Regions from separate parts of the Homo sapiens genome. Here all the other regions are reported to be linked to region 5. Evidence: microRNA targets listed by miRTarBase, many of them from high-throughput screens and not tested one by one. Region 5 holds a microRNA gene; each other region holds the end of a gene's coding sequence.

Region 1 (5,794 bases), not on the chromosome of region 5:
AGGGGGCAGCTCCGGCCTTCCTCCTGCCATTTCTGAGTCTTGGCAACTTTGGGGGTTCTCCTGTGTTCACGCGGAACGTTGTAGCAAAACCGCGGGGAGGACTCGCCCACAGTCACATGGTCAGGAGGCCACGCGGTCCCTCTTCCCGAGAGGTCGCGCCCTGACCTGCTTCCAAGTGCCACCCGTCTCAGCCTTGCTGAGGAGCCCTTGGAGCATTTTGTCACTGGCAGGACCCGACCCTCACAGTAGCCCACCAGCCGGAGCACGGCCCCCCCATTCCGCCGTCAGGGCACTCAGGAGCGCGGCCCCCCCCCCCATTCCGCTGTCAGGGACCCAGGAGCGCGGGCCTCCGCCCATTCCCCCATTCCACCGTCAGGGGACCCAGGAGCGGGGGGGCCGCGTGGGCTCCACAGTGATCTCCGACCCCGGGCGGGCTCCAAGGGGCCCAGGGCCCAGGACAAACGCGGCCTCGGTGCTTTTGCAGGTCCTGCAGCCTCGCGTTTCAGAGCCCCGGGCCGGGCCCCCGAGGAGCTCCCGGCACTCTCGCCTCTTGTCTTTCAGCTCCTCAATCAGTTTGAAAACACAGGCCCCCCACCGGCAGATAAAGAGAAAATCCAGGCCCTCCCCACCGTCCCCGTCACTGAGGAGCACGTAGGTATGAGAGCTCAGCCTCCCGAGTAGTGGGAATTACAGGCACCCGCCGCCACGCCTGGCTCATACTTGTATTTTCAGTAGAGACAGGGTTTCACCATGTTGGTCAGGCAGGTCTCGAACTCCTGACCTCAGGTGATCCTCCTGCCTCGGCCTCCCAAAGTGCTGGGATGACAGGCGTGAGCCACCGCACCCGGCCTCGAGCATTTCCCTGAAGGTGGGCTGGGAGGAGAGGGTTCTGTCCAGGTCCCCTCTGGCAGCCCGGGGGACACACACACGGCTTTTCTCCCCTCGCTGGGCTCAGGGGCGGCCTCCGGCTGAGGCTGTGGAGTAGCCTGCCCTTGAAGGCTCGGCAGGCCCCCCACGCCCGCTGTGACCGCAGCTGCACACTCCCGCAGGCTCCGGGCTCGAGTGCCCTGTGTGCAAGGACGACTACGCGCTGGGTGAGCGTGTGCGGCAGCTGCCCTGCAACCACCTGTTCCACGACGGCTGCATCGTGCCCTGGCTGGAGCAGGTGAGTGCCCCGCCCACCCGCCCCCCCACCCCGACCGCGGCCCTCCCGCCTCTAACCTGCCCCTTCTCCCGTCCCTGCCTCTGTCCCCACAAAGCACGACAGCTGCCCCGTCTGCCGAAAAAGCCTCACGGGACAGAACACGGCCACGAACCCCCCTGGCCTCACTGGGGTGAGCTTCTCCTCCTCGTCGTCATCGTCCTCCTCCAGCTCGCCCAGCAACGAGAACGCCACAAGCAACTCGTGAGCCCACGTCGGCCGTCGGGAAAGCACGGGGCCTTTCCCACCCACCCTCAGCCAGCGCCACACGGCACCCACAGACTGGGTGCCCCGGCGGCGCCACGCTTGGCTGGTCAGCGCTGCAGGTCCCGCCTGTTCCAGGGCAGGACCCGGGCCCGGCCCACCGGCCCCCTGGCTTGGGAAGGCGTGGGCCACATGGTCCCCTCTGGGGCGTCCCCAGCCTCCCCGTCCTCTGTCTAACCTCACCCTCTAAACGTTCAGCGGTGGAAAGATTTTTATAATTTTAAATTATTACTGCTTTGAAATAAACGGACGTTTGAGCTCACGTGGCGGCCATGCATGGTTTGTGGCGGAAGACGGGGCCCAGCGGCTCCCCCAGCGCTGAAGCACGGGGTTCAGCGGCTCCCCCAGTGCTGCAGGTGCCGCCAGGACGGGCCACGTGGGCCCCCAGCCTCCCCCTCGGCCGCCTCCACGACCCGGAGTAGGGGGGCTCGGGACCATGAGGATGACCAGCAAAATTCAAGAACAAAACTGCTCCAACAGACTTTTTTAAAGGAAAAAATATGTGTATCTTGAAAGCTATTTAAAATACACTACTTACAAAGAGAAGCCGGTGCTGTGGCTTTCCTTCTGCGCCCGTGCGTCAGGAAAAGGCCAAGCTGGGAGGCTGGTCGGGCTCTGCAGAGTCCGGTCCTGTCTCCAGGGGTCTGCGCCTCCTGCAGGGCTTGGCACCCAGGGCCGGCTAGCAAAACTGCTCTCCCGAAGTTAAGCCCAGGAGGGCTGCTGGCGAGGTAGCAGGGTGGCAGTGTCACTGGGTCGTGAAATTTAAAACCAGAAACACCAGCGTTAAAGCGCCAGGGCCCAGCGCCTCTGCCCCACGCTTCGGTCACACCTCAGCCACGCGGGTTCCTGGCCCCTTCTGAAAAGCCGGACCCCACTGCTCAAGGTTGCTGGATGCCTGGCCCGGGGTGCAGCCAGCTCGGGCACAGCTGGCAAGGCGTGGGGACCTGCGGGCTCAGGGGGCCGGGGCAGTGGGTTCATCTCAGTTGCTGATGATCCCACCATCCTGGGATCCAAGAATCAGACGATGGAGACAGCTAACGGAGAGGAGCCTCCAGCAGGACCACCCGTGTCCCTCCACGGTAGACGGCTCCTGCGCGTGGGAGGCGCGTGCCCCACGCCCCTACCTGTTCTCCAAAGACTCCCGCCCTCCGCTCTGCACCACACTCTTCACTGTGTCCCGCGACGTGTCTGCGTCAGCCCCCTTGGCCAGGTAACTCGGATCCCACCTGTCCGGACCGTGCGCAGGGCACCTTCTGGGCTGCTGCCGCAACGCCGTGGCGGGCCCTCCTGGTGGCCGCCCTCTGGGGTCGCGCGTGGCGGGCCCTCCTGGTGGCCGCCCTCTGGGGTCGTGCGTGGCGGGCCCTCCTCGTGGCCGCCCTCTGGGGTTGCGGAGCCGAGAGAAGCGTTGGGACTTCCATGACTGTGGCCGCCAGGGCAGAGTGCCAGCCCTGAGGGCGTCCACATCTCAACCCCAGGACCCGCGGACTCGGCTCCTCACGAGGTAACGTACCCGGTGCCCTAAGACGAGGTTGCATGGAGGACACCGAGGTAGGGAGGTTACCTCGGATCGTCCTTGATCTCCGGACTGAGAGAACAAGTGTTTTAGGCCCCGAGTCTGCGCGACAGGCTGGGCCGCCTGCTCCGGGTCACAGTCCCCCGGCCGAGCCGTTTTCCTGTTGGAAGATGGAGTTTTGAGTCAGGAGGCGTTGAGGGAGACAAGGCTCGGGTTCTGTGTGTCCGTGGTGGTTCTTGGGAGTTGGAGTTGGAGCTGGAGAGGAGGGCTGGGCAGGTGAGGCTTGCAGCGGCGGGACCTGGAGACTCGGAACTGGAGGGCCTTTGTCAGAGATGCTGCCGGGGTGTGCGCCTGCCTGTGAGGCTGGGACTTCCCTCGCGTGGAGTGGCCAGAGGAGCAGGACCGATTGGTTCGCCCCACCCAGGCATGAGCCTCGGGGGCGCTGGGCCCAGAGGACACCGGCACCCTGGTGGGGGCTGTGAGGCCGCATTGCTCGAGGTCAGACAGCAGTAAGAAGTGGCCGCCCCTGGTGTCTTCCCTGCCCCAGGAGCCTGCTGCACGACAGGACAGGGCCCTGGTAAGGCCCGCACCCCTGCGTCCCCGGGCCCCTCGCGCCTGCAGCCGCCCTCTCCCCATCCGCCCTGCCGCTCAGGAGTGCTTCGTAAGCGGAAGCACAGTTTGCAACAGTTTGGGGTTGTCTTATTTTCACTGCTGGCGATTTCCTGGGGAGCCGCTGGTTCTGTGCCCCCAGGCCGCTCCTCTCTGTTGGGGGGCCCCCACCTCACTGCCTGAGGACAACGGGGGTCCCCAGGTTTGGGCTTGCGAATAAGCTGCTGAGGGCTCTGTGTGAACCGGGATTTCACTGCCCTGGGATGTGCGGAGCTGTACGCCCATTCCACGCTCTGTTTTAGAAACAAAGAAACAACTGCTGACCTGTTTCTTTTTTTTTTTTTTTTTTGAGACGGAGTCTCGCTCTGTCGCCCAGGCTGGAGTGCAGTGGCGCGATCTCAGCTCACTGCAACCTCCGCCTCCCGGATTCAAGCGATTCCCCGCCTCAGCCTCTCAAGTAGCTGGAATTACAGGCGCCCGCCACCACGCCCGGCTAATTTTTTGTATTTTTAGTAGACACGGGGTTTCACCATGTTGACCAAGATGGCCTTGATCTCCTGACCTCGTGATCCACCCGCCTCGGCCTCCCAAAGTGCTGGGATGACAGGCGTGAGCCCCCGCGCCCGGCCTGCTGACCCGTTTCTTCGAGGCACATGTTACGTTCCTGCGTGGGGTGCCAGCAAGTTTTATTTCAGCTGTGGTGACCTGTGCAGCTCCCAGTGACAACTCAAGTGGCGACGCCCTCCGACTGGCCAACGTGGGCCGATCTCCCCTCACACTGCCAACCTGGGGACATCCTGGGTGCAGCCCTGTCCTCCACCCACTCCATGCCAGCCAAAGATGTCCCCAGAGGCCGCCTGGTGTCCCCTGGGGTGGGGCTCGCTTCTGTCTGCAGGGTGAGCAGAAGCTCTCGGGCCGGGCACGACCCTCCCTTCCCAGAAGGGTTTTCCGTGTCAGGCTGCTCAGCACCTCCCAGCAAGTGCCTCGGCCCAGTCTTCCTGTATTTATGTGGAAGGCGGCGGCTGGGGATGGAGCCCTGGCCGTCCCCGGGGACTTCACCAGGGCGATGCTGCTGTCGCCCCACACACAGAAGGGGAGACAGGCCCAGGGTGTCACTGCCTGGCTCCAGGCTGTGGGGCTCTTGGCTCTGACCTTTTCTCTGAGAGGCTGGAGTTTGACTCCCAGGGCTGTAGGCAGAAGTCCCAGCGGAGTCAGGATGTCAGGAGGGCGCTGGGCACAGGTGGGGGCGCCCCCACACCGACGGCCAGCCCTCTCTGCGTCCCGCAGGACAGCGGCATGAAGCCCCCAGGCCTGCCCTGCACCCAGCACGGCTCCTGCCCTCAGCCTCTGCCCTTCCCGGGGGATCTGAGGAGCACCGAGGCGTCGGCCTCTGCCCTTCCCGGGGGATCCGAGGAACACCGAGGCGTCGGCCTCCGCCCTTCCCGGGGGATCGGAGGAACACCGAGGCGTTGGCCTCCGCCCTTCCCCGGGGGATCTGAGGCTTATTTTGTCATGAGAACAGTTTCAGACACCGTGTGCATATTTCCGACGTCTGCTGTAACAAAAGACCACAAAGTTGATGGCTTACTACGTTTATTTTCTGGCGGTTCTGGAGGCCAGAGTCCAAACTGGGTCCCACTGGGCTCATATCAAGGCAGGAGCAGGCCGGTCCCTCCCGGGGGCTCCAGTGCGGAACCGTTCCCGCCTTCCCCAGCATCTGGAGGCACCCACGTCCCTCAGCTTAGGGCCCTTCCTCCCCTTCACGGCCACAGCGCGGCCCATCCCCATCTCTCTCTGGCTCTCACTGTCCCGCCTCCTGTCGTGAGGACCCTGTGAGGACACTGGGGCCCTGGACCCCCCACCCTGGATGCTCCTCCATCTCCGTCCCACCTGCAGGTGCCTTTGTCCTCGCAAGGCGTTGTATTTGCAGATTCCCGGGACGGGACCGGCTTCGAGGCTGGTGTTCTGCGGCGTCTGTCACCGTCTCCCCGGCCCCCTCCCCTCCCCTCCGCTCCTGCCCCCACTCCCAACGTGCTCCCCACCCCGAGCCCCTGCCTCTGCCGGGCCCTGCCTGGGACGTCCCCCTCGACCTTTCGACGTCTGCGTCCTTCAGCCCGAGAGGCGCCCTGTTGGGTCCTCGAGGTCCCCAACTCAGGATTGAACCTGCTTGGTGGCCACCACCCCCTCAGGCTGGGACCCCCCTGGAG
Region 2 (5,794 bases), not on the chromosome of region 5:
AGCTCAAGTTATCCTCCTGCCCTGGCCTCCCAAATTGCTGGGATTGCAGGTGTGAGCCAGTGGGCCTGGCCTCAGGGTCCACTTCTAATTCTAGTTCTTTTGCTATTTCTACATCTGCAGTTTTTTCCTCCACTGAAGTGTGTCTTCAGCCCCTCAAAGTCACCCATGAAGGTTGTAATCAACTTCTTTCAAACTCCTGCTAATGTTAATTTTTTGAGATGGAGCCTTGCTTTTGTCACCCAGGCTGGAGTGCAATGGCATGATCTCGGCTCACTGCAACCTCCGCCTCCCGGGTTCAAGCGATTCTCCTGCCTCAGCCTCCCAAATAGCTGGGGTTACAGGAAAGCGCCACCATGCCCGGCTAATTTTGTATTTTTAGTAGAGATGTGGTTTCACCATGTTGGTCAGGCTGGTCTCGAACTCCTGTCCTCAAGTGATCCACCCGCTTCATCCTCCCAAAGTGCTGGAGTTACAGGTGTGAGCCGCTGCACTCGGCCTAATTTTTAAATTTTTTTAATACAGATGGGTTCTCACTTTGTTATTCAGGCTGCTCTTGGCCTCCTGGGCTCAAGCGATCTTCTTGCCTCAGCCTCCCAAAGTGCTGGAATTATAGGTGTCAGCCACCACTCCCGGCCTAATCATGAATATTCTTTTTTTGTTTTTTGAGAGAGTCTCACTCTGTCACCCAGGCTGAAGTGCATTGGCACGATCTCGGCTCACTGCAACCTCTGCCTCCCGGATTCAAGCGATTCTCATGTCTCAGCCTCCCGAGTAGCTGGGACTACAGGTGCGTGCCACCATACCTGACTAAGTTTTGTATTTATTTATTTATTTATTTATTTATTTATTTATTTATTTATTTTTAGTGGAGATGGAGTTTCACCATGTTGGCCAGCTTGGTCTCAAACTCCTGACCTCAGTTTATCCACCTGCCTCAGCCTCCCAAAGTGCTGGGATTATAGGCATGAGCCACCACGTCCGGCCCTAATCATGAATATTCTTAATGGCATCTAGAATGATGAATGCTTTCTAAGTTTTCAGTTTACCCAGATCCATCAGCGGAATCACTATGGCAGCTCTAGCCTTACAAAATGTATTTCTTAAAAAAGACTTGAAAGTTGAAATTACTTCTTCATCCATGGGCTGCAGAATGGATGTGTTAGCAGGAATGAAAACAATATTATTTCCCTGGTATCCCTCCATCAGAGCCCTTGGGTAATCAGGTGCATCGTCAATCAGCAGTAATAACTTTAAAAAATATTTTTTTTGGCTGAGTGCGGTGGCTCATGCCTGTAATCCCAGCTACTCAGGAGGCTGAGGCAGGAGAATCGCTTGAACCTAGAAGCAGAGGTTGCAGTGAGCTGAGATCATGCCACGGCACTCCAGCCTGGCCGACAGAGCCGACGAAGGAGTTGGTCTCAACAGTGGCTTAAAATGTTCGGTAAACCATGCTGGGAACAGATGGGCTGTCATCCAGGCTTTGTTGTTCCATCCACAGAGCACAGGCAGAATAGATTTAGCATCATTCTTAAGAGCCCTGGGATTTTCGGAATGGTAAATGAGCATTGGCTTCAACTTAAAGTCGCCAGCTGCATTAGCCCTAACGAGAGTCAGCCTGTCCTTCGAAGCTTTGAAGCCAGGGATTGACTTCTCTTCTGTAGCTATGAAAGTCCCAGGTGGCATCTTCTTCCAATAGAAGGCTGTTTGTCTACATTGAAAGTCTGTTTTTGAGTGTAGCCACCTTCGTCAGTGAGATCAGCTAGATCTGATGGATAACTTACTGCAGCTTCTCCATCAGCACTTGCTGCTTCACTTTGCACTTTTATGTTACAGAGACGGCTTCTTTCTTTCAACCTCACAAAACAACCTCTGTTAGCTTCTGACTTTTCTTCTGCAACTTTCTCACCTCTCTCTGCCTTCAAAGGATTGAAGAGAGTGAGGGCCTTTCTCCGGACTAGGCTTTGGCTTAAAGGAATGTTGTGGCTGATTTGATCTTCTTTCCAGACTCAAACTTTCTCCGTATCAGCAATAATGCTATTCTGCTTTCATATCATTTGTGTGTCCACTAGAGCAGCACTTTTAATTTAATTTATCATTTTTATTTTTTATTGTTTTGAGACAGAATTTCGCTCTGTCACCCAGGTTGGAGTGCAGTGGTGCGATCTTGACTCATGGTAACCTCCGCCTCCCCACTTCAAGCGATTCTCCTGCCTCAGCGTCCTAAGTAGTTCGGAGTACAGGCATGCACCACCACGCCCAGCTAATTTTTTGTATTTTTAGTAGAGATGGGGTCTTGCCATGTTGGCCAGGCTGGTCTCGAACTCTTTTTAAAACATTTTTTTTGAGACAGAGTTTCGCTTTTGTTACCCAGGCTGAAGTGCAGTGGTGTGATCTCGGCTCACTGCAACCTCTGCCTTCCGGTTTCAAGGATTCTCCTATCTCAGCCTCCCGAGTAGCTGGGATTACAGGCGCCCACTGCCATGCCTGGCTAGTTTTTGTATTTGTAGTAGAGACGGGGTTTCACCATGCTGGCCAGGCTGGTCTCGAACTCCTGACCTTGTGATCTGCCCGCCTCAGCCTCCCAAAGTGCTGGGATTACAGTTGTGAGCCACCGTGCCCAACCTGGAGCAGCACTTTTAATTTCCTTAAAGAACTCCCCCTTCACAACTTGGCTACCTGTTTGGTGCAGGAGACCTGACTTTTGGCCTCTCTCAGCTTTCAACATGCCTTCCTCACTAAGCATAATCATTTTGACCTTTTGATTGAAAGTGAGAGATGTGTGATTCTTTCTCCCTTTTTCTGTTTTCTTGTTTTGAGACAGGGTCTCACTGTCGCCCAGGTGGGAGTGCAGTGGCAGGATCTCAGGTCACTGCAGCCTCTGCCTTCACCTCCCAGGCTCAAGGGCTCCTTCCACCTCAGGCTTCCTAGTAGCTGGGACTACAGGTGCGTGCCACATGCCCAGCTAATTTTTATATTTTTTGTAGCGATAAGGTTTCATTGTGTTGCCCAGGCTGATCTCCAACTCCTGAGCTCAAGGGGTCCACCAGCCTTGGCCTCCCAAAGTGCTGGGATAACAGGCGTGAGTCACCAGGCCTGGCCAATGACTCTTTCTCTCACTGGAACACTTAAGAGGCCATTGTAGGGTTACTAACAGGCCTAATTTCAATATTATTTTGTGTCTCAGGGCATGGAGAGACTCAAGAAGAGGGAGAGAGACAGGGAATGGAGTGAGCAGTGTGAGCAGTGAGAACACACTCGACATTTATTAAGTTCACCATCTTTTTTTTTTTTTTGACAATGTCTCACTGTGTCACCCAGGCTGGAGTGCAATGGCACGATCTTGGCTCACTGGAACCTCCGCCTCCTGGGTTCAAGCAATTCTCCTGCCTCAGTCTCCCAAGTAGCTGGGATTACAGGCGCCTGCCACCACACCCGGCTGTTTTTTGTATTTTTAGTAGAGACGGGGTTTCCCCATGTTGTCCAAGCTGGTCCTGAACTCCTGACCTCAGGTGATCCACCTGCCTCGGCCTGCCAAAGTGCTGGGATTACAAGCGCGAGCCACCGTGCCCGGCTAAGTTCACCATCCTATATGGGTGCAATTTGTGGTGCCCCAACAATGACAATAGTAACATCAAAGATCACCGATCACACATCACCATAACAGATATAATGAAAAAGTTTGAGATATCGAGAGGATTTACCAAAATGTGACCCAGAGACGCTAAGTGAGCACATGCTGTTGGGAAAATGGCACCGACAGATTTGCTTGATGCAGTGTTGCCAGAAACCTTCAATTTGTCCTTTTCTTTTTCTTTTGAGACACAGTCTCACTCTGTTGCCCAGGCTGGAGTGCAGTGGCGAGATCTTGGCTCACTGCATGCTCCACCTCCCGGGTTCAAGCAATTCTCCTGCTTCAGCCTCCCAAGTAGCTGGGATTACAGGCGCCTGCCTCCATGCCCAGCTGATTTTTTTATTTTTAGTAGAGACGGGGTTTTGCCATGTTGGCCAGGCTGGTCTCAAACTCCTGACCTTTAGTGATCCGCCCACCTTAGCCTCCCAAAGTGTTGGGATTACAGGCATGAGCCACCATGCCTGGCCAAACCTTCAATTTGTAAAAACTGCAATAACCGTGAAGCACCATGAGGTGTATTGGGAGATGAAGGTCTGCAGCTGGTGATGGACACATGGTACACCTTTCCTAACAAGACCTTACCAAAGCCACACAAGTACGAAAAGAGAGTAAACCTAGGCCCCCGACCCCAGGTCAGGGTCCCTTCATCCTCCCCTGGGCACCTCCCCATCTGCAGACCCATCGCCCTCAGATTACACACCTGGGGCTAGTACTCTAAGGCCAAAAAACCCAAAATCTGAGCCTGCCAATACTGCAGTGAAGTATAGTAACTGATGCACAAAGCACTGTGGAGAACTTTTTATTGTTTAAAAATCATAATCGAAGCTTCAAAAAACATACAAGCCAAGACATCCCAGTTCTAGTCCCCCACTCCCTAAAGGAGTACACAGAACTATCCTTCCCCTCCTGCTCCCACACTGCTGGCCAGGACCCTGCCCGGGGAGGTTGCCTGCCCACCCTCCTGCCTGCTGTACAGTAAGTCACCGGCTGGGGAGGAGCCCTGGGGGAGGTCAGGGTGGCTGGCTCCCAGCACCCCCACCCCCTGCACGAATGCAGCATATGAGCTGTGTGTGGGAAAATGGGGACAGTGCCCTGGGCAGGGGACCCCCAAGGGGGAAAGAGCCTGTCCCCATTCCCCCTACCCCTCCCCAGCCCCCCAGCTCAAGGGAAGCTGTCATCATCATCTTCTGCCATCTCCTTGGCAAACTCCAAGTCCTGCTGTTCTCGCTCACGCCGTTCCTGGGGAGAGAGGCAAGTGAGGCCAAAGCTTCAGAGCAGCTCAGCCCTTCCAGACACTCGCCCGACTCCCCTTCTGTGTGGAAGTTTGACCTTTCGGTCTCACCCAGAAAGCAGAGAGCTTACCTCTGCAGACTCCAAGTCCTTGTTGTACGATTTGGGAGGAAACCTCATGGCCTGGGGCACAGCAAAGAGAGGAGATGAGCGAGGGAAGGAAGCAGGTGAGGCACTCACGCAACCTGCACTCCCTGCGTCCCCTCTGTGAGCTAGACACCAGGCAGGAAGCGGCGGGCCCCTCTCCAGTTAGTCTAGTGGGGGGCTAGGCATCAAAGGAATTATTACAGTGCCCTGTGGGAAATGCTGAAAAAAGAGGAATAAACGACCAACTCTCTTGACTGGGCAGGGAGGAGGAAAAGGAGGAACACAGTGGATGTGGCAACGGGGAGAGGCCTTCCCGGTGGAGGATTCCATGTGGGAGGGGCCTGGCCTGCACCCAGTGGGCTGGCTGCTGGGTGGTGGGGCAGGAGTGGGAGGGGAGGCTTGACCTAAGGGACCAGGTCACAAAGGGCCTTGCATGTCACGTGGAGTAGGGCTTAGCCAGATTTTAAGCAAGGCAGCAATATCCTAGTTTCCTCGGAGGAGACCAGAAAAAAACATGGCAAGCAAATAGTAACAGCGCCAAACTCAGTGCTTAACTGAGGATAAGGGCTCACCCTTTTGTGGAGCTAGATACCAGCGCCATCTTTTTTACAATTTAGACTTCGCTAAGTGCCTCAATACAGGGACTTCTTTTAATCTTACCAACCCTGTGAAGCAAGCAAGACAGGTAACACCTCCCTATCAGCTTCAGAGATGGAGAAACAGAGCTTTGAGAAGTTAAATGCCTCAAATTTGGAACCAAATGTAGAACCCCGCCCTCTGAATCCC
Region 3 (5,794 bases), not on the chromosome of region 5:
CTTGCTGTGCATCTTGAAATTCTCAATGGAAGACAACCCTACAAATGTAAGGAATGTGGAAAAGGCTTTAAGTATTTTGCAAGCCTTGATAATCACATGGGAATCCACATTGGAGAGAAACTCTGTGAATTTCAGGAATGTGAGAGAGCCATCACAACTTCCTCACACTTAAAGCAGTGTGTAGCAGTTCATACTGGAAAGAAATCCGAAAAGACTAAGAACTGTGGGAAATCCTTCACTAATTTTTCTCAACTTTCTGCACATGCAAAAACTCATAAAGGAGAGAAGTCCTTTGAATGTAAAGAATGTGGAAGATCCTTTAGAAATTCCTCATCCTTTAATGTTCACATTCAAATTCACACTGGAATAAAACCACACAAATGTACGGAATGTGGGAAAGCCTTCACTAGATCAACTCACCTTACTCAACATGTAAGAACTCACACTGGAATAAAACCCTATGAATGTAAGGAATGTGGCCAAGCCTTCACTCAGTACACGGGCCTTGCTATACACATACGAAATCACACTGGAGAGAAACCCTATCAGTGTAAGGAATGTGGGAAAGCCTTCAATAGATCTTCAACGCTTACTCAACATAGAAGAATTCACACAGGAGAGAAGCCTTATGAATGTGTTGAATGTGGGAAGACCTTCATTACTTCTTCCCATCGTAGTAAACATTTGAAAACTCACAGTGGAGAAAGGTAAATGCAAGATATGTGGGAAAGAATTTCTGTATTCCTCACCCCACCTGTGAACTCCTACCAGAGAGAAACCTTTTGTATGTAAAGAATTTGGGAAAGCATTTGCTCTTTCCTCATGCCTAAGTATGCATGAAAGAATTCACACTGGGGAGAAATACTATGAATGTAAGGATATGAGTGTTGTTACCATTTAGCCCATTGGTTGCCATCTTTAATTATTGGCAGTGCAAAGATCATCAGATTAGTCCTAAATGCCTTTTGGAGGTTGTAATGGCTCACAGATTGGCCTTAGATGCATCCCGAGGGTCTGAAATTAAACCTACAGGTTCTGAATACAACATCATGGTTACCTGAGTCTGGGCATCTGTGAAGAAGGGTCATGGATGGTGAGGTCAGTACTGCAGGCTGCCTCACCTTGGTGATTAGATTCCTAAGATCATAGCATTAACAAGTTCTGTACGAGATAAATCATGCAGATTGATCCCAGCCCCTGTTGGTTAGTGGCTGCCAGTGTGGCACATTCATGTCAAAATTTACCAGAAGCCAAGATGATGTAGGCCCCAGAGGTGGATTGTTAAAAAGATGCTCCTCCAAGGTTCTCTTCTGTTCCCATGGATCCTGCAGAGCATGTCAGGAGTGAAACCATCCATAACTGCCAGTGCCCTTTCACAGCTGATTATTTCTATGTCCCCTTCTTGTAAAATAAGAAGTGTGACAACCTTGACTGTTCTGTTCTGTCTTCTCTGTCCATTTTAGGTGGCACAATGTAAGTGGCAGTGTCTCTTATAGTATAATCCAGTCTCTCTTCTCACTTCTGTTAAGATGGCTGATATAGTCCATGAATCCCACTCATGATCTCTTTATCAAATGATTGTTCAGCCACACTTTGAGGATTCTCTTCAGTACAAGTTTTCTAATTTTTGCAGTATGGATAGGCTGAGAATTTTCCAAATCTCCAAGTTCTGGTTCCTTTTTCCTTAACAATTTCTTCTGCAATTCAGGTCTCCTTTTGCATTTTTGCCGAGACCAGCTGGGTCGTGGAGACCCTAACCCAGTGGCTCTAGAGGAATTAAGACAAAGACACAGAAATATAGTGCAGAGTGGGAATCGGGGCTCACAGCCTTCAGAGCTGAGCTTGAACAGAGTTTGACCCACATATTTATTGACAGTAAGCCTGTGATAAACATTATTCCTATAGATTGTAGATCAGCTATAAGTATTCCTTATGAGAAAGAAAGGGACAGGCTCTGGCTTGTTATCTGCAACAGGAATATGTCCTTAAGGCACAAATCACTCATGCTATTGTTTGTGGTTTAGGAATGCCTTGAGCAGTTTTCCAGTTTTCTGCCCTGGGTGGGCCAGGTGTTGCTTGCCCTCATTCTGGTAAACCAGCAGCCTCCAGCATGGGCGTCATAGCCATCACGAGCATGTCACAGTGCTGCAGAGATTTTGTTTATGGCCAGTTTCTCATTGCCTGTTTATGGCCAGATTTGGGGGGCCTGTTCCCAGCACATTTTCCTGTAAGCACTCAGGAATAATGAAGCTTCCTGTGTCCTTTAACACTTTAATTACAGATCTTAGTGATACATACCATTTTATCTGTCTCAAGCTCTACCTTCCGTAAAATGCTAGAATACAGTTCTGCCAAGTTCTTCACCACTTTATATCAAGGGTTGTCTTTTCTTCATTTCCCAATAGCATGTTCCTCATTCCCCAATGACACCTCACCAGAATAACCCTTACCAACCTTATTTCCAGCTTGCACATCAGAATTTTTCCAGCCTCTACTCATTTGTCAGTTTCAAAGCTGCTTCACATTTTTAGTTTTTTTGTTTGTTTTTAATTGCAGTACCTCACTTCTCAGTACCAATATCTGCCTTAGTCAGCTCAGACAACCATAAGAGAATACCGCAGACCAAATGGCTTAGAAATTAATTTAATTTTAAATCAATGAGGTTAAAAACACAGGATTTTTTTTTTTTTTTTTTTTTTTTTTTTGAGATGGAGTTTTGCTCTTGTTGCCCAGGCTGGAGTGCAATGGTATGATCTTGGCTCACCGCAACCTCCACCTCCTGAGTTCCAGTGATTCTCCTGCCTCACCCTCAGTAGCTGGGATTATTGGCATGCACCACAAACCTTAGCTAAGTTTGTATTTTTAGTAGAGACAGGGTTTCTCCATGTTGGTTAGGCTGATCTCCATGTTGGTCAGATCTGACCTTTGGTGATCCACCTGCCTTGGCCTCCCAAAGTGCTGGGATTACAGGCCTGAGCCACCGTATCTGGCCCAAAACACAAATTTATATTCTCACATATCTGGAGGCTGGAAGTCTGAGATCAGAGTGCCAGCATGGTCAACCTCTAGTGAGAGCTCTCTTCCTGGCATGTAAGTGCCCACTTCCTCATGTTTTCACACGATGGAGACCAACAAATAGGTCGGTCGGTCTCCCCCCTCCCCGCCCCCTTCTCTTTTCACATACAGTCACATTGAGGTTTGGAACTTCATATGAAATTTGGGGGGTCACTGTGTGTGTGTGTGTGTGTGTGTGTATGTGTATATATATATACATATATATACACATATGTATGTATACCTAACTCCTAAAGTGGAACAGTAAGAGTCATTATTTATAGATTATCTGATTCTCTATGTGGAAAGAGAAAAGAATCATATTAAGTACTTTGGACTGAACAATGACCCCCAAAATTCGTATGATGATGAAGCTCTCTCTAAATATTTTCTTGCTTTACTGGACTGATTTTAACCCGCTGCACAACACCAACTAAAAGTAGTAATACCAGCATACTTGTCTTTGCAGTTCTGGTGAGATATGCACTCTATTTTGTTGGTTTGGCTGTAGGCTTTTATTTCTTTTTTATTTTTTGAAGAGGTTATGTCCTGTCAGGGAACCAGCCCCGATATTCACATAGGTTCTTTTCTATTTTCCCTAAGTGTCAGCCAACTTGAGAAATAAAGGGACAGAGTACAAAAGAGAGAAATTTTAAAGCTGGGTGTCCGGGGCAGACATCACATGTCGGTAGGTTCCGTGATGCCCCACAAGCCGCAAAAACCAGCAAGTTTTTATTAGGGATTTTCAAAAGGGGAGGGAGTGTGCAAATAGGTGTGGGTCACAGACATCAAGTACTTTACAAGGTAATAGAATATCACAAGGCAAGTGGAGGCAGGGCGAGATCACAGGACCAAGGTGAAATTAAAATTGCTAATGAAGTTTTGGGCACCATTGTCATTGATAACATCTTATCAGGAGACGGTTTTGAGATCAACTGGTCTGACTAAAATTTATTAGGTGGGAATTTCCTCTTCCTAATAAGCCTGGGAGTGCTATGGGAGACTGGGGTCTATTTCACCCCTGCAGTCTCGACCATAAGAGATGGCTACACCCAGGGGGGCCAGTTCAGAGACCCACTCCCAGGTGTGCATTCTCTTTCTCAAGGATGTTCCTTGCTGAGAAAAAGAATTCAGTGATATTTCTCCCATTTGCTTGTGAAAGAAGAGAAATGTGGCTTTGTTCCACCTGGCTCACCGGCGGTCAGAATTTAAGGTTATCTCTCTTGTTTCCTAAACATTGCTGTTATCCTGTTCTTTTTTCAAGGTGCCCAGATTTCATATTGCTCAAACACACATGCTGTATAATTTGTGCAGTTAATGCAATTATTACAGGGTCCTGAGGTAATATACATCCTCCTCAGCTGACAGGATTGAGAGATTAAAGTAAAGACAGGCATAGGAAATCACAAGGGTATTGACTGGGGAAGTGATAAGTGTCCATGAAATCTTTACAATTTATGTTTAGAGATTGCAGTAAAGACAGGCATAAGAAATTATAAAAGTATTAATTTGGGGAACTAATAAATGTCCATGAAACCTTCACAATCCATGTTTTTCTGCCATGGCTTCAGCCAGTCCCCCCGTTTGGGGTCCCTGACTTCCTGCAACAATGTCCTGCAGGAAAAGTTTTTTCTTTATATCCAGTTTTTACATGATGAATTATTTCCCAATATTTCATAGTTTATGAGGCTGAATTCCTCTTGAATTTATTAAATGCTTCCTTCACATCCTCTGTGATGATCATGTTTATTTACTGATAAAACTCAATACCTAGAACTGCACCTAGCTCATGATGGTACCTAATAAATACTTCAATGAAATGATGTGGTGATGCATGCCTATAGTTTTAGCTACTTGGGAGGGTGGCCTGAGCCCAGGGGTTCTAGACCAGCTTAGGCAACATAGCAAGACCCCATCTCAAAAAAAAAAACAAAAACAAAACAAAAAAAAAACTTGAAGAAGTGAATGCATGGAAAGGCGCTTTTCTAAAACAAATGTGGTCAGGCTGGGTGTGGGGGCTTATGCCTGTAATCCCAGCAATTTGGGAGGTGGGGGTGGGCAGATCATTTGAGGTCAAGAGTTCGAGACCAGCCCAGCCAACATGGTGAAACCCCATCTCTACTAACAATACAAAAATTAGCTGGGTGTGGTGATGTGCACCTGTAATCCCAGCTACTTGGGAGGCTGAAGCAGGAGAATCACTTGAACCTGGGAGGTGGAGGTTGCATTGAGCCAAGATTGCACCACTGCACTCCATGCTGGGTGACAGGGTGCGACTCTGTCAAAAATAAATAAATTAAATTAAATAAATGTGGTATTTGTATTTATTGCTTTTCCAATGTTACATCAACCTTGTATTCCTGGATAAGCTCGACTGTGACATAATGGATCACTTAAAAATACTTCATGACCTTTACTAATATGTTATGGAGCTATGTTTGAATAACATTGTGATTTTTAAAAAATTGTCCCTTAATGATATTTGTATATAATGACTGTCATATACTGTAGTGGGGCATGTTCCTACTATTTCTAAATTCTTAATCTATAAGAGTCATCTAGGTTGGGAATAGTGGCTCAGGCCTGTAATCCCAGCACTTTTGGAGGCTGAGGCAAAAAGATCCCTTGAGCCAAGGAGTTCAAACCAGCCTGGGCAACATAGCGAAACCACATCTCTATTTAAAAATACTACAAGATATTTTCATTTTTTTGGTTTGTTTCTTTGTTTTTGAGTTGGTGT
Region 4 (5,794 bases), not on the chromosome of region 5:
AGAAGTGATGGAGGGCATGGACTGGTCCACTCTCCTGCAGTTCTGGGGTCTCCTGGCCCTCTCTGATTGCCCAGTAGATGGGCCAGCCTTCCGCAAGAGAAGGCCTAAAAAGCTTGGTCTGCACATTGTCCCAGGATTCCAACCCCAGCTGGGGTTCCTTCTGATTTTTTTTTTTTTTTGAGATGGAGTTTCACTCTTGTCACCCAGGCTGGAGTGCAGGGGCACAATCTCAGCTCACTGCAACCTCTGCTTCCCAGGTTCAAGCAATTCTCCTGCCTCAGCCTCCCGAGTAGCTGGGACTACAGGTGCCTGCTACCATGCCCGGCTAATTTTTTTTTGTATTTTTATTAGAGACAAGGTTTCACCAGACGAGGTTGGCCAGGCTGGTCTCGAACTCCTGACCTCAGGTGATCCACCTGCCTCAGCCTCCCAAAGTGCTGGGATTACAGGCATGAGCCACCATGCTCGGCTGTTCCTTCTGATCTTAGATGATGTCTTAGTGATTTCACTTACTTTCTATTCCTTAGAAAAAGAACTCAGAATATCCCATGCTAGGGATGTACATGTCTACATCCCTACAGAGGTACAATTCTGGTCACACTGCTCTTACCCTTAAAACCCTTAATTTATCCTAACTTCCCACATGCATAAACTCCAGACTCAACAAGACATATAGTAAGGCCTTTCTTGGTCTGCCTGCCTGCATTTCGAGGCCCATCTTCCCACATCCTCCCCCTACATTCTCCACTACATGTTTTCCCCCAAATAAGCCAAACCCTTTCCCTCAGTGGGCTTGAGAACACCTCTACCTCTCCTTCAACAACAATGAAATAATAATGCAGCTACTCACTGAACACACATACATCACTTTACATATAGCAGGTAGCTCTTAGCCTCATAAGTGAGGCCTTATTTTGCACATTTTACAAATAAGAAAACTGGGACTCAGAGAGGTTAAGTAATGTACCCAAGATCAATTAGTACATGACAATCGTGATTTGAACCCATCTTTCTTGCTGCAAAGCCTGTGATCATCCTCCTCTGCCGGGCTGGTCTCCCTCTTCTTTCTTTTTTCTCTTTCTTTCTTCTTCTTTTTTTTTTTTTTTTGAGACAGAGTTTCTCTCTTGTTGCCCAGGCTGGAGTGCAATGGCACAATCTCAGCTCACTGCAATCTCCACCTCCCGGGTTTAAGTGATTCTCCTGCCTCAGCCTCCCGAGTAGCTGAGATTACAGGCATGCACCACCATGCCTGGCTAATTTTGCATTTTTAGTAGAGACAGGATTTCTCCATGTTGGTCAGGCTGGTCTCGAACTCCCGACCTCAGGTGATCCGCCCGCCTCGGCCTCCCAAAGTGCTGGGATTACAGGCATGAGCCCCCGCACCTGGCTTCCCTCTTCTTTCAAAGTGCAGTTTGAGATTTATTTCCTGGAAACCTGCACTGAACTCTTCATCTCAGCTCTCTGCAACCACCCTGAGTGGGGTGCCTGTGAGTTGCACTAGCAAAGGCTGACACTGATCAAACAGTAACGGCAGCCATGGTCCCCTGTCTTCCTCCCAAGATGTAACTGCTATAGGGCAGGAATCTAGCACCATGCCAGGCACAGAATAGGTGTTAAATGTTAAATAATGGAATGAAAAAGTTAGAAGGGAATTTTCGGGGGAGTATACATTTAGGAATAATCTATGCCCATTTCACATGAGGAAACCCTTCTCACCCATTCCTTGCGAATACTCACACTCATTCCTTAGGAAACAATCTCAATCCTTCTAGATTTTGAGACATTTTGAACTTCCTACATAGTATAGCGCAGTTGATTTTCTTTCCTTTCCTGGTGCTATTTCACGTGAGGCAATGCAGTGCTGTGGTCACAAGTTTTGGGATCAGACCTGGTTCAGTCACTTACGAGTTTGTGACCCTGGAGCCCCAGTTTTCTCATCTGCAAGATGGGAGGATACTACCTACCTCATGGAGTTGATCTGAGGGTTGAAAGAAGTACCTTACCACCTGTGAGACAGCATTATGATTGCTGTTGTGTAGGTTGGGAAATGAAGACAGGAAAGGTGAGGAGCCTTCCCACAGTGGAAAGGGGACGGGAAAGCCTATGGGGGTTGGGGAGCGAGACCTGGGCCAGGCCATCTTATCCCAGATCCTGTGCTGCCTCTGCAGCACCATGAGGTACAGGACCACATGGCTTAACAGACATTCAGTATTTCCCTCATTCCTCAGTGAGGCACCCCTAAAGTCTTTCCAGAATGGACTTCCAAGGGGTGAGTTCTCAGCAGATACCAGCTCCAGCCCGGAGTTGCCCTCACAGGGTCCAGCAGCTAATTCAACCTTTTAGAGCTCTCTGTACTCCCAAGGTTCCGTCTGACCATTCAAAAATGGCTCATTGTCTGGGAATGGTGGCTGAGGCTTGTAATCTAGCACTTTGGGAGTCCGAGGCAGGAGGATTGCTTGAGTCTAGGGCCAGTTACTTGGGAGGCTGGGGTGGGAGGATTGCTTGAGCCCAGGCGGAGAGTGCAGTGAACCCTGATCGCACCACTGCACTCCAGCCTGGGCAACAGAGCAAGACCCTGTCTCAAAAAAAAAAAAGCTCAGCCCTATCCATGCATATGGGACCACTTTGTGTGCTTGGAAATGCCCCCTCCCATAAGGCTTGGGTTTCTCTTGCAAGGGGTGGAGGCACTCCAGTTGCTAAACACCTTTCTTGGGTAGGGGATTGAGGAGACAGGATGCCTTTGGAAGAGCATCCCCTAATGCACAGTTCCATCATCCCTTATAGTATCTGCAGCTCCTCCAGCTCCTGTTTCTATCTGTTACTTCAGGGGCTGAACTCAAATATAGGGATCCAGAAGCAGCAGGGGAGGCCTCTCTGCAGTCTCCTCACTAGGGGGCAGCAGCGGCTACGGGAGGCCTCCCAGCCCTGGGAGGGGGAAGGGAAATGCTGGGCCAGCAGGTGGCAGTGCCCTTCTTGGACCCAAGTAAGGAAAAAGTCCAAGTACCCAGAGAAAGGGAGGGGAAAAAAATCCGTATCCTGTAAAGACCCAGGTTCCACTTGTCCTTGAAGATCCCGCTGAAGGTGTCACACTCCCTCCCTCCAGGAGGCTCCCTGGACCCCTCAGATCCAGATAGGTGATCCTCCTCCATTCCTGCCTCCTGGAGAAAGAATTACACTATCACCTGATGAGTGATACCTGACTCCTCCAGAACCCTTCAGGGCAGGCATTTTATTCATCATTTATTTTAAAAATAACTGGGAGTCAGAAACAGATGCTAAGAGGAGGCACATTCTTCAAGTTTTCTAAAAGAACCCTTTCTACTTTGGATAGGACAAAAATGAGCTTTGGCTGAATGAACTGAGACTAGACATAAGAAGGACTGAGCTGCTGATGAGTTATGAATGGAAGACTAACACGCAGTCTCAAGGCAGGAGAAGAAGAACATGTGCTGTTTTCCTGGGAGTGGGGCAACTGGTGGTGGCTGTGAGAAGGCAGAGCTCTTCAGAGGGGACAGCCAAGAACAGGTAGTCACTGGGGGCCCTATTTAGCCTGAGAATGCAGGAGGGATTGTTTTATGGGGTCCTCCCTGCCCCTCAAGACACCCTTCCGCCCCATCCCCACACCAGGGTGCTAGAGAAGATAGGAATATAGATTTTAATCATTGTGCTGCTGCTATTAACCAGAGTGCAATTAATCCATCTTTTGTGGATTTTGATGCCACAGTGTAAATGAGAGGGTTTCACACAGAAACACTCTGGGGGCCTTCGGTGACAAAAGGGCTAGGCCTCTGGTGGGGAGGGGGTGGCAAAAGGTGAAGTGGAATTAGGAGAGATGTGGGGAGCAGACCCAGGGCTGGGAGACTGCTCCTTCCCCATCACACATGCCCATCAAGGACCCCAAGAGGAAGGGATTCTTCCTGCCATGGCCTGGGCTGTCCAAGTGAGCCTGACTTCCCTTCCAAGGCAGCTGCCTCTAGCTTCATGTCCAATTCTCGCTGAGTAGATGAGGTCCAGGGTAGGCCCACAGTTGACCACCAAATGGTGAAGAGATATAAGCCAAGGGAGAAGAAAGTGGTTTGGAACCCCCAATCATTCTCCATTTTTCATCCTAAGCTACCTTAAAACTAGTTCAGAGCTGGGGAAAGACAGCAACAGCAGTCTATCCTCTCGGTCAGAACTGCTCTACCTGCCTCCTGGAGATGGGGGTGGGGGGAGGTGGGACTCACAGGAGGGAGAGGTAGGAAATATTCCTGTGCCTTTCTTTGCCTGTGCAGTAAGTGAAGACTCTCTTCAGAGTCAGCTCTGCAGCTGGTGGAGTCATCTGTGCCTCTTACAGTTTTCTGAGATTGGTAGGATTTGGAGCTATAGAGAGGTCAACTTAGAGCCCCAAGGCCAGACTCCACTGGTTGCTAACAGGAGCTGACATTCTTGGAAGTAGCCCCGACTGCTTGGACAAGATCATTCCTCATGTTAAGAGTGAAGTGATATGGTCCAGGGCAAAGGTACTGAGCCCAGAGACAGCTAGGAGTCAGAGACACACAGGGCCTCCACTGCGTCACTCAGACCCTGGTTGACACCTCCCACGGCGAGGAGGCAGTTCTTGACGACTATGCTGGAGCAGGCACAGCGGGGTGTGGGCATGGCAGGGAGGATCTCCCATTTGTTCTTCCCTGGGTGGAATGCTTCCGCCGTCTCCAGGACAGTGGGTTGATTCCCTGAAAGTGTCAAGGGAATCAGACCTTACAAAGGAGTCCAACCACCAATCCATGCCCCACGGTCACCCCACCTCCCTCCCTTCGGCACCCACAAGCAGAAGCCAAGCAAGGTCAACTTCCTTGGCTACAGGATTACTCCCTTTACTAAGCCAGTGGCTTTTGTCAAGCAGCCACTTTGTCCCTCCTACCGTCTTCCTGTCTCTTTAAGAGTAAGCTTTCTTTCCCTACCCATTGCTTTTTACCAGAGCTTTCTAGCACACTACTGCCTCACTGCTGCCCTTTCCTAAAAAAGCTACTGACATGGTCTAGTTGACACGGTTCCTTCATGCCTGAGTAAAGTGGGAGTTTGTCCACACTAAGTAGACTTGGGGTACCTGGAAGCCCTGCTGCCTGGATCTCTCTTCCTTGATGATGGGGAACTTCTCGCTTTAGAGTCCCTCCTTCAAAATACTAGTAATCTCTGGCAGAGTTAATACATCAAACCCAAGATTCATCTGTTGAACTTATTTAATCAGATTGCTTTCCTGTTCCACGATTGGGCTGGAACAGGATAAGAGACTGGTCAGAGGAGGACCAAGGCTAATCCCCTCCACAGTTTGTCTCCAGTCATTCCCGTTTAGGGATCTGTGCTCAGTAAGCCTGTGCTGCACGGCTACGGGTGTCCCTTATTCTCTCTGCGTCACAGTTTCCCTGTGTAGGAGGACAGAAAGGCCACACCTGGGGCCCACAGTGGATAGGTAATATCTAGGCTGGAAGAAAGGGAGTGCTTCGAATTTTTTGGAGTATAGTGGTAGGCAGGTGGTCTGCAGGGAGTCAGTACCCTTTCCTGCATATGCAAAGTGCCAAGGATCCACTGAGCACCAGAACCACAATAAATTCCAGCGTGAAAGCGCCATCCTTACCAAGTCCCCCAGCCACTATGACCCGTCCACTCAGAGAGCCAGCCACAAAATCTGCCCGCCGCTTCTTGAGGAAGAACGATCGTTCCATCTTCAGCCATCCCCCTATAGGCCATGGATAATGGTGGGTTATATAGACAGAATAAGATACAGACCACTCCCACCAAATGCAGATTGTGG
Region 5 (5,794 bases):
CTCCCACCCTTGGCTCTACCCAAACCTCCTGCGAGGTCACACTGCGAGGCTTCAGGTGAAGCAAACAGGGGACTTTTTTTCCTTGGCTGAGAAAGCAGCCTTCCTCCTGCCCACCCACGTGAGCAGCTCAGCCTGGGGCCTGGGCGGGTAGGTTCCTGAGAGCACAATCTGATCTCTGGGAAGCTGGGCCCTCAACCCTCGGCTGCAGGGCCACAGTCCCTCTCAAAGGCACACAGACACTGGGTCTGGGCCACATGTCTAGGGTGGAGTGGATCAAGCTGTTGTTCCCAGGGCACAATAAACTTCATTTATACAAGCTTCAGTGGCCTGGTAGATTGCTTTCCTACTATAAACAGGACACCCTTCATTTTCTCTTCCTTGATAGGAGTCAAAGGCAAACACACTGGATCCAGTGGGAACTGGTGAAATGAGAGTTGCCATCTGTTGAATACCTAGTATGTGTCATTCACTCTGCATGCATAATCCTGTCTAATCTTCACAGCCTATGAAGTACTAGTATCATCCACATTTTACAGGTGAGGCAACTGAGGCCCAAGAAGTTAAGCAATGCCCAAAGCCACACAGCAAGAGGAGATGCTGGGGTATGAACTCAGGTCTGCCCAGGCCTCATTCCCACGCACCCATCAGACTTCCTTCAGTCACTGCCCAAGTGACTGTCCACACACCATCCAGGAACGGCGTTCTGAGTGTGGAAGCAGAAGTCGGTGTGGATGAATTTTGCTGGAGGCCTCCAGAATCTGAACTGATGCTCCAACTATTATTGCTCCCAAGTGTGTGACTGCGAGAGCCCATGTCAGTGTGTGTGTGTGTGTGTGTGTGTGTGTGCGCGCGCGCGTGCGCGCTGAGGTGGAGGGAGGGTGATCTGGATTCCAAATTGCAGTTTCCAACATTAAAGTTATGCTGTAATGCTTCTGATTCATAAAATGAGCTCATAGTCTCACAGTATCCTGAATGTTGCTTCGAATGCAAATGCAGGTCCCTTAGTAAGAATTGGGGATTTCAGCCTACTCCACCCTAGCCCCGGCCCAGCATGCAATTTTTCAGTCCCAGAGTCAAGAGTTCTCATGTGCAGAAAGAAGCAATTCCTCCAACAGAATGCGGCCACTGGCTCTGCTTCCTGCCACCTGCAGTGAGTCAGGGAAGAATGGAGCCCCAGGCTGCTTCTGTACTGATGCATGCACGCCTGCACACACACAGGAAGGGTGCCAATCTGGGCTGACCAAAGGAAGTGCCCAGGCTAGCAGATCCCTAGGGAGATGGCTCCACAACTCTTTCACCCTGAGGTCCCCTTAGGGTCAGGATGACCGACACATGCACTCCACAAGGCCAGCTACAGGGCAGTGCCAGGAAACTGGGTTCACCAGCCCCAGAATCACCCACGGTGGACTGACATTTTTGAAACCAGTGATGCAATCTGAGGAGGTTCCAGGAGCAGGGACTCACTGGGCCCAACACATGACAAGTACACATTTTTTTTGATGGAGATCTTTCACTAATTTGTTCAACTAACATGCACTAAGACCAGGTGAGGTAGTTCAAGACTGTAATCCCAGCACTTTGGGAGGCCAAAGTGGGTGGATTTCTTGAGCCCAAGAGTTCAAGACCAGCCTGGGCAACATGGCAAAACCCCATATCTACAAAAATAGAAAAATTAGCCAGGTGTGGTGATGTGTACCCGTAGTCCCAGCTACTTGGGAGGCTGAGGTGGGAAGATTGCTTGAGCCCAGGAGGCTGAGATTGCAGCGACCTGAGATCGCACTACTGCACTCCAGCCTGGGCGACAGAGAAAGACCCTATCTCTAACAACCAAAAAAAAAAAAAAACACTAAACACTTACTAGATGCCAAGCAGCATTGTGGGACCCATTCAAGCAGAGGCTACCAAATACTGAAATGTGCTTTAAGCATTTTACGTATACTAACTCACAGAATCCTCACAGCAACTCTATGAAGGAGATACTGTATAGGAACTCTAACTCAGAGTCTTTGTTTTTGACCACCACACTGCAGTATGTACACAAATAACTACATAAGGTGGAAATGAGTGTTCAGAAGATGGCTACAGCCTTCAGAAGTGGCATTTGAAACAGGATTAGAAGGATAAGCTGGAAACCCCCAGCCACTTTGTGGCTGTCCCCACCCCAGCATGAGCAAAGTTTTCTTCTGGGAGACCCAAATGCAAGAGAGGGGCTCTCAACCTGAAGATTCCTGGACTGGGCCCATTCCCCTTCCCCTCTTCTGTCAGAGGTCTTGGCACCCCTGGGCAGCCTTTCTCTGGGGACTCTAGACACAGGAGGCCCTCAGCTGAATCCACAACTGCATGTTGTCTTTTCTTGTGTTCCACTTATTGAAAGCAGCAGCACACAGGGTCAAACACTGGGGCTATTTTAAAATCCCACATGTAAAAATTAAATTCTCATCCCCATGGGCACTCCAGGGCGCTCTTTCCTGGGGCGGGGTGAGGAGCTGACAGAGTCACGGGAGTGGGGGTTCTGCTGGCACTTGGAGAGGCCACACTGGCAGTGGCTAGGCTGTTCCAGAGCAAGCTGGCAAGCTGTATGACCTGGGGGCATCCTCCAGGTTCTTCACCCCCTTGTCCCCCCGGGAGCTACACGGACCAGAGTAACCAGCCAGAGGCCAATCCAATTAGAGTGGAGACTGGACCAGGGCCATGCAACGAGATGGTTTATCACAGTAATTGAATGTTTACGCTCCTATTATTCACTGTCCAGAGCAGTTGGAAAAGGAAGACCTACGAATTCTCAACCCGGGAAGGCTTCTCCTTTTCCCTGGGTTCTGAAGCCACTTAACACCCAAGGAAAGGGTGCATTTCTCTGATCCAAAAGGGGCGTGTGCCACACCTTTGGTGGGAGGCTCTAGAGCAAGACAGGTGGTTTCTCCCCTCAGCTGAGGCCCCCTAGGGAGGACTGGCTTCTCGGTCCACCTTCACTAGGCCTTCAGTCTCAACCCTGAAGCTACAGGAACAAGAAGATCCCAGATCACCTGGCCAGGCTCCCCCTGCTGGAGCAAGCCAGACATCCCCTCCCTCCCCCAGCCGCAGCTGCCAACAGGGATCCCCTGCATACGCGGGCCACCGGGGCCTCCGTGGCCAGCCTCTCTTCCCCCATCCCACCGCCCCCCGCGCGAGGCTCCACAGGCTGGCACACAGGTCCCACGTGGGATGGTGGAAACAGGAAGCAGCCACCGTAGTTGTGACCAACAAAGTTTTAAATGGGGCATATAACTTCCCCTTTCATCTTCTCACCAGCTCTCGCTGGAGGCTGGGCTGGGACGGACACCCGGCCTCCACTTTCTGTGGCAGGTACCTCCTCCATGTCGGCCCGCCTTGGGGCTGAAGCCTGAAGGCCCCAGGGCACACGAAGTTCCCCTTCCTCCCCTAGACCTTTACCCAGAGGCCTTGGGGGCAACCTGACACACATGGTCCTGCATGTGCGACTTGGGAGGCGACGTGACCAGCTCCACCAAGCCGGCCATATGCAGGGCCCGGCCGAATCCCGGGTTTCGGCGCTGCCGCCAGGCACCAGGGAACACAGCTCCCCGCGAGGCACCGCGCGGGCTGGGAGGGCTGCGGCGGCGCGGGCGTGCGGGGGCGCGCGGGAGGATGACAGGTCTGAGGTGCGCCCGCCCGCGCGAAGCGCTCCAGCCTAGGCCTCTGCTGACTGCATTTGCCCCAGTTCCCCAACGCCCCTGCACCTCTGTCCCCCAAACTCCTGGCGTGGACGCCGCGTCCAGGCCCACTTTCCCGTGCACGCTGGCAGGGGAAGGGGCTCCCGCGCCAAGTTCCCTCAGCTGGCTAGCCCCTCGCCGCGCCTTCCGGGCCTGGGCTCCGTCACGTCAGCCGGTCCCCACGGACACCACGTTTCTCTCCAGCGGAGGAGGAGCAGCCGGATTCCCGAGCCGCCGCGGGCCGCCGGGTGGGGAGGGCTTTCCTGGCGGGGCCGCGCCCGGGTGGGCGGGGGCCGCGCGCAAGCTGCGTAGCTGCACAAACACCGCGGGGCTGCGCTGCACACGCAGCTGCGGGCCGAGGGCGCGGACCGCGGGGGAGGGGGCGGCGGGCTGCAGGCGGCCCCCGCACGGCCACACGCGCCCGCTCCACCGCCGCCCAGGCCGCAGAAGTTCGAGCGCAGCGGCCCCCGCGGCCCCCTCTCCGGGCCGCGCCTGCAGAGCTGCAACCCGCCGTGCGAGCAGCCACAGCTCGCGCGCCGCCTGGGGTCCCCTCGCCGGCCCCGCCGCGTGCAGGCCTCGGCCGCCGGCCAGGCAGCCCCACTTACCCAGCTCTTGCCCGGGCTCCGGGCTCCGGGCTCGGCTGTCCCCCTTCCGCCGCGGGTCGCCGCCTTCGGTCGCCTCCGGGACTCCAGCCGCCTGCACGCACTCCCGATTTTAAAAACAAACAGGCGCCGTCGCCTCCCCGCGGCGCTCGCGGGGCTTCCGCCAGCCCGCGCCTCCCGAGGCTGAGAAGTTTGCTGGCAGGGCCCGGGCGGGACGCGCGGGCTGTCACCCCCCGCTTGCGATGCAGGAGCCTCGGCGCGCCCCGCACCCGTGCCGTCCGCCTCGCGAGCGCTCTGCCTCCCTCCGTGTCACCCCCAGTCCTGCGATGCAGTGTCAGGATTGCACGGCTCTGACTCATCGGTTGAGCTCACAGCTTGAAAAAAAAAAAAAGAGAGAGGGCGAGAGGCAACAGCGGAGGAGGAGGACTCTGGCGTGCTACAAAGGATTGCACAACTCGAGGCTGGGAGCGCGGAGCGCCCAGCGGCCGGCCGGCGCGCGCGGCACCGCGGCGAGCAGGAACCAGCTCTACCACTTCATCAGCACAACTGTCTCGGGGCGGCCTCAGCCAGCAGGCCCGGCGCCGCCCACTTCCTGCGACCAAATAAGGCCGGGGAAGGCGTCCTTAAACCTCAGGCGGCGGCCGGGGCTGGGGATTTCCAGCAGACCTCACCTCCACTCACGAGTCGGTCGCCGTCCCCATCCCCCGCCCAGGCTGGCGCCCCCGATGGCTTTGCTGGCGGGCCACGCTGCTAGTTCCTTTCACACCAAGGTCAGGAGGAGACGGTGACGAAATGTTTGGAAACCCATTGAGCCTGCCAGGAAAGTGTGTGTGTGATGCTGGGGAAGGCACAAGTCGCTTTCTTCCACAAAGAAACTCTCTCTGGTTTTGGATACGGTAAATCATGCACAATCCTCTCCATGGCATTTTATTAACAGACTCTCCGAGTTTCACTTTCTGGCTCAAAAGCGTCCTGGTGCGTGTAAAGGTTATTGAGAAACTGGCCTCAGTCCCTAGAAAGGACCCACCATCTCCATCGCTTAGGTGAGGAAAATCTCCTGGATTTAAATCTAGCAACTCAGGCCAGAGTTGAGCGGCTTTTCACTCCATACTCACATTTTCCCCTGTCTTCCCTAAATATCCCCCTGATCAATTCTCAGGTCCAGGCCTTGATGCCTCCTTGCCTGACTGGTGGGAAGATGGAAAACATTTTTGCAGCTCAAGAGGTTGGTTCTGGCCCCCACATTCAATGGGGCTCTAGGGCCAGGGGAAAGTTCAGGGGAGTGTGTCCTATTCTTCCTTCCAAGTTTTTTGGTGGTGGTGCAGTGGTGGTGGTGGCGGCGGCGGTGGTGGCGGTGGCTGTTTTTCAAGGAGATGGGTCACAAGGAGATTTTCCTTTGAAAGAAAAACCACCGAAGAATACCATGTGTCCTGGCAGCCACTTTTCAAAACACTGTGGCCAGACCTGAGAACCAGGTGCATCCCT

What was found. Region 5 holds the annotated microRNA hsa-miR-4505 (AGGCUGGGCUGGGACGGA, at 3,299-3,316, shown strand). A microRNA usually pairs through its seed, bases 2 to 8, with sites in the 3' UTR of a target mRNA and lowers its output. Matches are read on the target gene's strand: a 7mer-m8 pairs with bases 2 to 8, a 7mer-A1 pairs with bases 2 to 7 and ends in A, and an 8mer does both.
Region 1: miRTarBase lists RNF126 as a target of hsa-miR-4505. Seed matches in the 3' UTR shown: 7mer-m8 at 1,618-1,624 and 7mer-m8 at 1,849-1,855.
Region 2: the mRNA of PSMD3 is a reported target of hsa-miR-4505. Seed matches in the 3' UTR shown: 7mer-A1 at 4,648-4,654 and 7mer-m8 at 4,617-4,623.
Region 3: miRTarBase lists ZNF562 as a target of hsa-miR-4505. Seed matches in the 3' UTR shown: 7mer-m8 at 1,190-1,196 and 8mer at 5,146-5,153.
Region 4: miRTarBase lists KLHDC8A as a target of hsa-miR-4505. Seed matches in the 3' UTR shown: 7mer-m8 at 3,852-3,858.

The regions. Positions count from the first base shown.
Region 1 is chr19:643,743-649,536 of GRCh38, reverse strand. It overlaps RNF126 (ring finger protein 126), which reads left to right. Exons shown (of 9, transcript NM_194460.3): 7 at 562-655; 8 at 1,050-1,165; 9 at 1,260-2,011. The coding sequence ends at 1,409. FGF22 (fibroblast growth factor 22) reads right to left here. Exons shown (of 3, transcript NM_020637.2): 3 at 5,164-5,794. Among named protein-coding and RNA genes, the nearest start is that of FGF22, 6.8 kb to the right of the region's middle. RefSeq lists an enhancer at 4,452-5,392.
Region 2 is chr17:39,996,580-40,002,373 of GRCh38, reverse strand. It overlaps PSMD3 (proteasome 26S subunit, non-ATPase 3), which reads right to left. Exons shown (of 12, transcript NM_002809.4): 11 at 4,994-5,044; 12 at 4,415-4,870. The coding sequence ends at 4,793. Among named protein-coding and RNA genes, the nearest start is that of PSMD3-AS1, 15 kb to the left of the region's middle.
Region 3 is chr19:9,647,866-9,653,659 of GRCh38, reverse strand. ZNF562 (zinc finger protein 562) reads left to right here. Exons shown (of 6, transcript NM_001130031.2): 6 at 1-5,794. The coding sequence ends at 711. Among named protein-coding and RNA genes, the nearest start is that of ZNF562, 24 kb to the left of the region's middle.
Region 4 is chr1:205,332,878-205,338,671 of GRCh38, forward strand. It overlaps KLHDC8A (kelch domain containing 8A), which reads right to left. Exons shown (of 6, transcript NM_018203.3): 5 at 5,618-5,719; 6 at 3,184-4,715. The coding sequence ends at 4,522. Among named protein-coding and RNA genes, the nearest start is that of NUAK2, 14 kb to the left of the region's middle.
Region 5 is chr14:73,755,451-73,761,244 of GRCh38, forward strand. It overlaps MIR4505 (microRNA 4505), which reads left to right and starts at 3,297; the gene lies at 3,297-3,369. It overlaps MIDEAS (mitotic deacetylase associated SANT domain protein), which reads right to left and starts at 4,853. Exons shown (of 13, transcript NM_001367710.1): 1 at 4,313-4,853. RefSeq lists silencers at 916-1,210, 3,521-3,630, 3,991-4,140, 4,271-4,510 and enhancers at 1,050-1,129, 2,821-2,870, 4,931-5,260.